Regions from separate parts of the Homo sapiens genome. Here region 2 is linked to region 1. Evidence: fine-mapped expression QTL. A gene starts in region 1. The other region holds a variant in brackets. All regions are shown on one strand. Distances are between the middles of the regions.

Evidence for each region. PIP is the estimated chance that this variant, and not a neighbour inherited with it, causes the effect.
Region 2: its variant is fine-mapped to the expression of MYO1F in whole blood (TOPMed, PIP above 0.99).

What each region holds. Positions count from the first base shown.
Region 1 is chr19:8,575,856-8,578,758 of GRCh38, forward strand. MYO1F (myosin IF) reads right to left here and starts at 1,587. Exons shown (of 28, transcript NM_012335.4): 1 at 1,452-1,587. The coding sequence starts at 1,454. RefSeq lists enhancers at 32-91, 432-491, 662-841 and silencers at 962-1,011, 1,549-1,698.
Region 2 is chr19:8,519,706-8,522,608 of GRCh38, forward strand. It overlaps MYO1F (myosin IF), which reads right to left. Exons shown (of 28, transcript NM_012335.4): 27 at 2,672-2,841; 28 at 1,073-1,899. The coding sequence ends at 1,823. Among named protein-coding and RNA genes, the nearest start is that of ZNF414, 7.0 kb to the left of the region's middle. The variant C/G (reference allele first, on the strand shown) is at 1,637.

The DNA.
Region 1 (2,903 bases):
CTGTGTTCTTTTGATCAAAGCCCTGCCCATCCCAGGACCTGAGCCTCCCTGGCTTGCTTCTCATCTTGGAAGAATTCCCACCCCAACAGTCTCAGAGCTCCAGCTGATGGTTTGGGTGTGAATTCCGGGATGCCCAATTTCTCATCAGCTTTCCTTTTTTGAGACGGAGTGTGCTCTGTCACCCAGGCTGGAGTGCAGCGGCAGGATCTCAGCTCACTGCACCCTCCGCCTCCTGGGTTCAAGTTATTCTCTTGCCTCAGCCTCATATGTAGCTGGGATTACAGGCGTGTGCCACCACGCCCAGTTAATTTTTTGTATTTTTTAGTAGAGACGAGGTTTCACCACGTTGGCCAGGCTGGTCTCGAACACCTGACCTCAAGTGATCTACCTGTCTCAGCCTCCTAAAATGCTGGGATTACAGGCATGAGCCACTGTCCCTGGCCCTCACTGGCTTCCTGAAAGAAGGTGTTGTCTCTCAGACTAACACCACCTCTGCCTCTTGCCCTATGTCCCTGACTCCACCCTAGTAAGCTGTACCTGCCAAGAATCCTGCAGTGGCCGCTGTCACAGCCACATGCTCTCATCCTCACTGACTGAATGACGAGAAATGAAAGCTGAAGTGGTCTACACAGCAGAGAGCTGTGGGGTGGGGTCAGCCCTGGCCACCTCTTACTTTGCGTCTTATGGTGGTACGATACTGCTAGGAATAGCGCCATGATCACGACAGTCTCCCCGTTGCTATCATCGACAGACCTCAGACTTGACAGGCAGCAACACCTCTGGCTGCCATCCTCCTCTTGGGATAAGGGATGCCCACCAAAGGGTGGCATGGACGTATTCAGCCTCTCCTGCCTCTGCTGCAGCCATACCGCCCGTCACCGGCACAGGGAGGGCGTCAATCCACCCCATCGCTTGTTAGACATAGCTTCCCATCTCAGCCGAGGACTCTGTGGCAGAACCCACAGACCTTGAGAATGTTGCAACTGAAAGACCCCTGAAGAGCAACTTCCGCATCTAGACGGATTTCCAAATATGACATCTGTGGGAACCGGGGCCAAGAGAGGGGAAGTGACTAGCCCAAGGCTACACAGGGAGACGAGAGACTGGGCTGGACTGGGAAAGGGCTCCCTTAATTTGCAAGCAAAGGAGGCTATGTCCTTGTCCCTGCAGACTCTGTGATTCTCCCTGGGCCACCTTCTGTCTTCCAGGTCCTGCCCTATCCTTGGATCCAGGGATACCACCCTGGCATCCCCACCACCTACAGATGGGAGCTTGCTCCCTGGTAAGGGATGCTGGAGGCACCTGAGCTGCACTGAGAGACACCCCACCCCCACAGAAGTCCACCATGCCCCTCCCCTCACCCCAATTTCTGATGGTCATTTTTAGGACACCTCCACCTGGCTGGTGTCCCTCCTCTTTCTTCTTCCAGATCCCACCCTTGAAGGACTTACCATGGTGGGGGGCTGGTGTCTGGGCTCCTGGAGGCTCCTGAATGGGTCGTGATGGAGGTGCAGGTTCAGGGGGATCTTGGGGGTGGCTTGGGCATGGCCCTGCTTCTGCCCGTTCACCGGACTCCCGGCTTTAGTTCCTCTTACAACAGCCCCTTCTCACTTCCTTTGGCGGGAGGGGCCGAGGCCATGGGGGAGGGAAGCTGGGTGTGGAGGGGGGCGGGGAGCTGGCTGTTTGGGGCTCTGAGCCTGAAGGGAGGGGTCAGAACTTGATGGCAGCCACTACTGGACCTCAGAGGCCTCTTCCCCAACTCCTTGGGGACAGGGCTGCTGCAGGAACATTTGGGTCAGCTGGCTGCAGGACGAACCACCTCTTTTCAGGGCGATTCAGGAAGCATTTGGGCTTCCCGGGTCTCTTTTTAAAACCAAGGAAGGGGCCCAGGGGAGGTGGCTCACGCCTGTAATCCCAATACTTTGGGGGGCCAAGGTTGGAGGATCGCTTGAGTCCAGGAGTTTGAGACCAGCCTGGGCTATATAGCATGACCCCATCTCTACAAAAAATGAAAAGAAAAAAAATTAGCTGGGCATGGTGGCATGAGCCTGCAGTCCCAGCTACTCAGAGGGCTGAGGTGGGAGGATTGCTTGAACCTGGGAGGTGGAGGCCTCAGTGAGCCCTGATTGCGCCACTGCACTCCAGCCTGGGCGAAAGAGTGAGACCCTGTCTCTAAAAACAAACCAGAAAAAACAAAAAAACCAAAAAAACAACAACAACAGGGAAGGGTGCCTTCTTCAGCTGTGTCTGCTCTGGGCATCCCTGGGCAACCTCCTTCATTATTATTATTGTTATTATTTTGAGACGGAGTCTAGCTCTGTCACCCAGGCTAGAATGCAGTGGTGCAATCTCAGCTTACTTTAATCTCCGCCTCCTGGGTTCAAGCGATTCTCCTGCCTCAGCCTCCTGAGTAGCTGGGATTACAGGTGCCCACCGCCACACCTGGCTAATATTTGTATTTTTAGTAGAGACGGAATTTCGCCATGTTGGCCAGGCCGGCCTTGAACTCCTGACCTCAGGTGATCCTCCCAACTCGGCCTCCCAAAGTGCTGGGATTACAGGCATAAGCCACCACGCCTGGCCCAACCTCCCTCTTTAGATGACCCTCAGAAGTCACACGTGTTTGTGTGCAGAAGTGGAGGGTACTGGGAAGCAGGTGCATCTGAAAGGTCCCTGACTTTGGATGTCACATCTAGATTTAACAGCCTCCAGTTTGGCTACTTCCTGGATGACTTAGTTACTCCCTTTTCTCATTGTAAAATGGGAACGTGGGTCCCCCCAGCAGAGCCTGGCCCAGGTACGTGTCAGCCTATGAGCTGGTCTTTGGGACACCAGCCAACCACCTGAGGCTCCTCTTGACATGTGAGGAAATGGCAGTTCTAATAGGTTGTTACTTCCCCACA
Region 2 (2,903 bases), 56 kb before region 1:
AGGCATGCACCACCACTCCCAAAATTCAGGAATTTTTTTTTTTTTTTGAGACAGAGTCTCACTCTATTGCTCAGACTGGAATTCCATGGTGCAGTCTTGGCTCACTGCAGCCTCCACCTCCTGCCTCAGCCTCTCAAGTATCAGGGACTACAGGCACGTGCCACCATGCCCAGCTAATTTTTGTATTTTTAGTAGAGACAGGGTTTCACCATGTTGGTGAGGCTGGTCTGGAACTCCTGACCTCAGATGATCCGCCCGCCTTGGCCTCCCAAAGTGCTGGGATTACAGGCATGAGCCACTGCGCCCAGCCCAAAATTCAGGATCTTTAGGCTCAGACCATAGCAGGACTCCAGTCTTAGTCCCAGTTAGGTGAAGACTAAGAGGGCACAGAAATGGGATTGGGGTGCAGGGGGCAGGAGTGACCCAGAGTGCATTGAGGGTGGGAGCATGTGGCATGTGGGACCTGCCTCTCTCCATAGGTCCCAGATGGGTTTGGCGGCTGTAGCTTCAAGACTAACAGGACCTGCTGGACCATTTGGGATGCAGATTTTGGAAGGGAAACTGAGACAAATTCTTTATTTTCTTTTCTTTCTTTTTTTTTTTTTTGAGATGGAGTCTCGCTCTGTTGCCCAGGCTGGAGGGCAGTGGCGCAATCTCGGCTCACTGCAAGCTCCTTCTCCCAGGTTCATGCCATTTTCCTGCCTCAGCCTCCCGAGCAGCTGGGACTACAGGCGCCCGCCACCACGCCCGGCTACTTTTTTGTATTTTTAGTAGAGACAAGGTTTCCCCATGTTAGCCAGGATGGTCTCGATCTCCTGACCTTGTGATCTGCCCGCCTCGGCCTCCCAAAGTGCTAGGATTACAGGTGTGAGGCACCGCGCCCACCTCCTCCCTCCCTCCCTCCCTTCCTTCCTTTCTTTTTTTCTGAGACAGGGTCTTGCTCTGTTGCCCAGGCTGGAGTGCAGTGGCATGATCTCGGCTCACGGCAGCCTCTGCCTCCCGGGTTCAAGTGATTCTCCTGCTTCAGCCTTCCCAGTAGCTGGGATTACAGGCAGGCACCACCACACCCGGCTTTTTTTTTTTTCTTTTTTAAATTTTTAGTAGAAACAGGGTTTTGCTGTGTTATCCAGGCTGGTCTTGAACTCCTGGTCTCACGTGATCTGCCCGCCTCAGCCTCCCAAAGTGCTGGGATTACAGGCGTGAGCCACTGCGCCCAGCCCAAACTGGGACAAATTCAAGCTTTATGGTCACATATGAATGCAAGGCATGGCTCTGTGCAGTCTTGGGTCAGTGAACCTCTCTGAACCTCCATTGTTCCACCTGTAAGATGGGGTCCTTCACAGCTCCTACCTCACAGGGCTGTGAAAACATCGTCCTTGTTGGGCACTTAGTAAGTTAACTCGTGCTTTCACCTGGCAAAGGTTTATTGCCTTAGTGATGACAGAATGAGCAAAGTCACGCTTGTTAAGGACCCCCCCCTCCCCAACTGTGCCTGGCACTTTGCCAACAGCACAGGACTCAAGACCCATTTCTTAATCACATGGCAGTTGGGAGGTAGATTCTGCTGTTAGTCCCCTTTGACACACACAGAAATGGAGAATGGGCAGCAGGTGTGATGTTGGAGGAAGACCAGGGC[C/G]CAGGGGCGGGGGCTGCAGCAGTGACCTGGTGACCCAGGGCCTGGGCAGGACTGGAGGCCAAAGGACTGGACTTTTAGGCTATTGCAGCCCAGGTAAACGAGGCTCTCATTGGCAGGGCCTGGCTCCCCACCAGGCCGGCAGGCAGATAGGCGGGCGAAAGAGAAGGCAGTATCCCAGGGCCCAGCTCAGATCTTCTCCACGTAGTTTCCTGGGAAAAGGCCCTCCTGGCCGTGAAGCCGGCCCTTCCACCAGCCCGAGGGATCTGTGGGAGAGAGGAAAGCTTGAGGTGCCCCTAGCTGGCCCTGGAGAAAGCTCTCATGCCTGGTCTGTCCATCTTGTTCATGGGGACTCCCTATGTTGTCCAGGCTGGTCTTAAACTCCTAGGCTTAAGCCATCCTCCTGCCTCAGCCTCCCAAAGTGCTGGAATTACAGGTGTGAGCCACTGCATCCGGCCATTTCTACTCTTTAAAAGTTTTTTTTTTGTAAATCTTTTGTAGAGATGGGGTCTTGCTAGGTTGCCCAGGCTTGTCTCAAACTCCTGACCTCAAGTGATCCTCCTGCCTCAGCCACTGAAAGTGCTGGGATTACAGGTATGAGCCACCTCGCCCATCTGTTATCTCTGTTCTCCCGTGGGGAGGGTGTGCAGTGGTGGGGTCTGCCTGGCAATGTCAGTCAGGGTTCTTTTTTTTTTTTTTTTTGAGACGGAGTCTCGCTCTATCGCCCAGGCTGGAGTGTGTTGGCGCAATCTCGGCTCACTGCAAGCTCCGCCTCCCGGGTTCATGCCATTCTCCTGCCTCAGCCTCCCGAGTAGCTGGGACTACAGGCGCCCGCCACCACGCCCGGCTAATTTTTTGTATTTTTAGTAGAGACGGGGTTTCACTGTGTTAGCCAGGATGGTCTCGATCTCCTGACCTCGTGATCTGCCCGCCTTGGCCTCCCAAAATGCTGGGATTACAGGCGTGAGCCACCGCGCCCGGCCGATGTCAGGGTTCTTACCACTCCCCTCACCCCAGCTTCTGCCCTGGTACACACACCTTCCATGAGGATCTCAATGACCTCGTTCACGTTGAAGCTCAGCTCGTCCACATCTTGGCCCACGTACTGGTATAGGGCCCGGCACCTGGGACCATGTGTCCGAGGCTGGGGCTTGGGTCGGCCCACACCAGGCACTGGCCGTTGCCCCACGCTGCGCTTCCTCTGCATGCTGTGGGCACAGGGGGTTTGAGTCACAGCCCCAGACACTCCCCTACCCCCTGCCCACCTCCT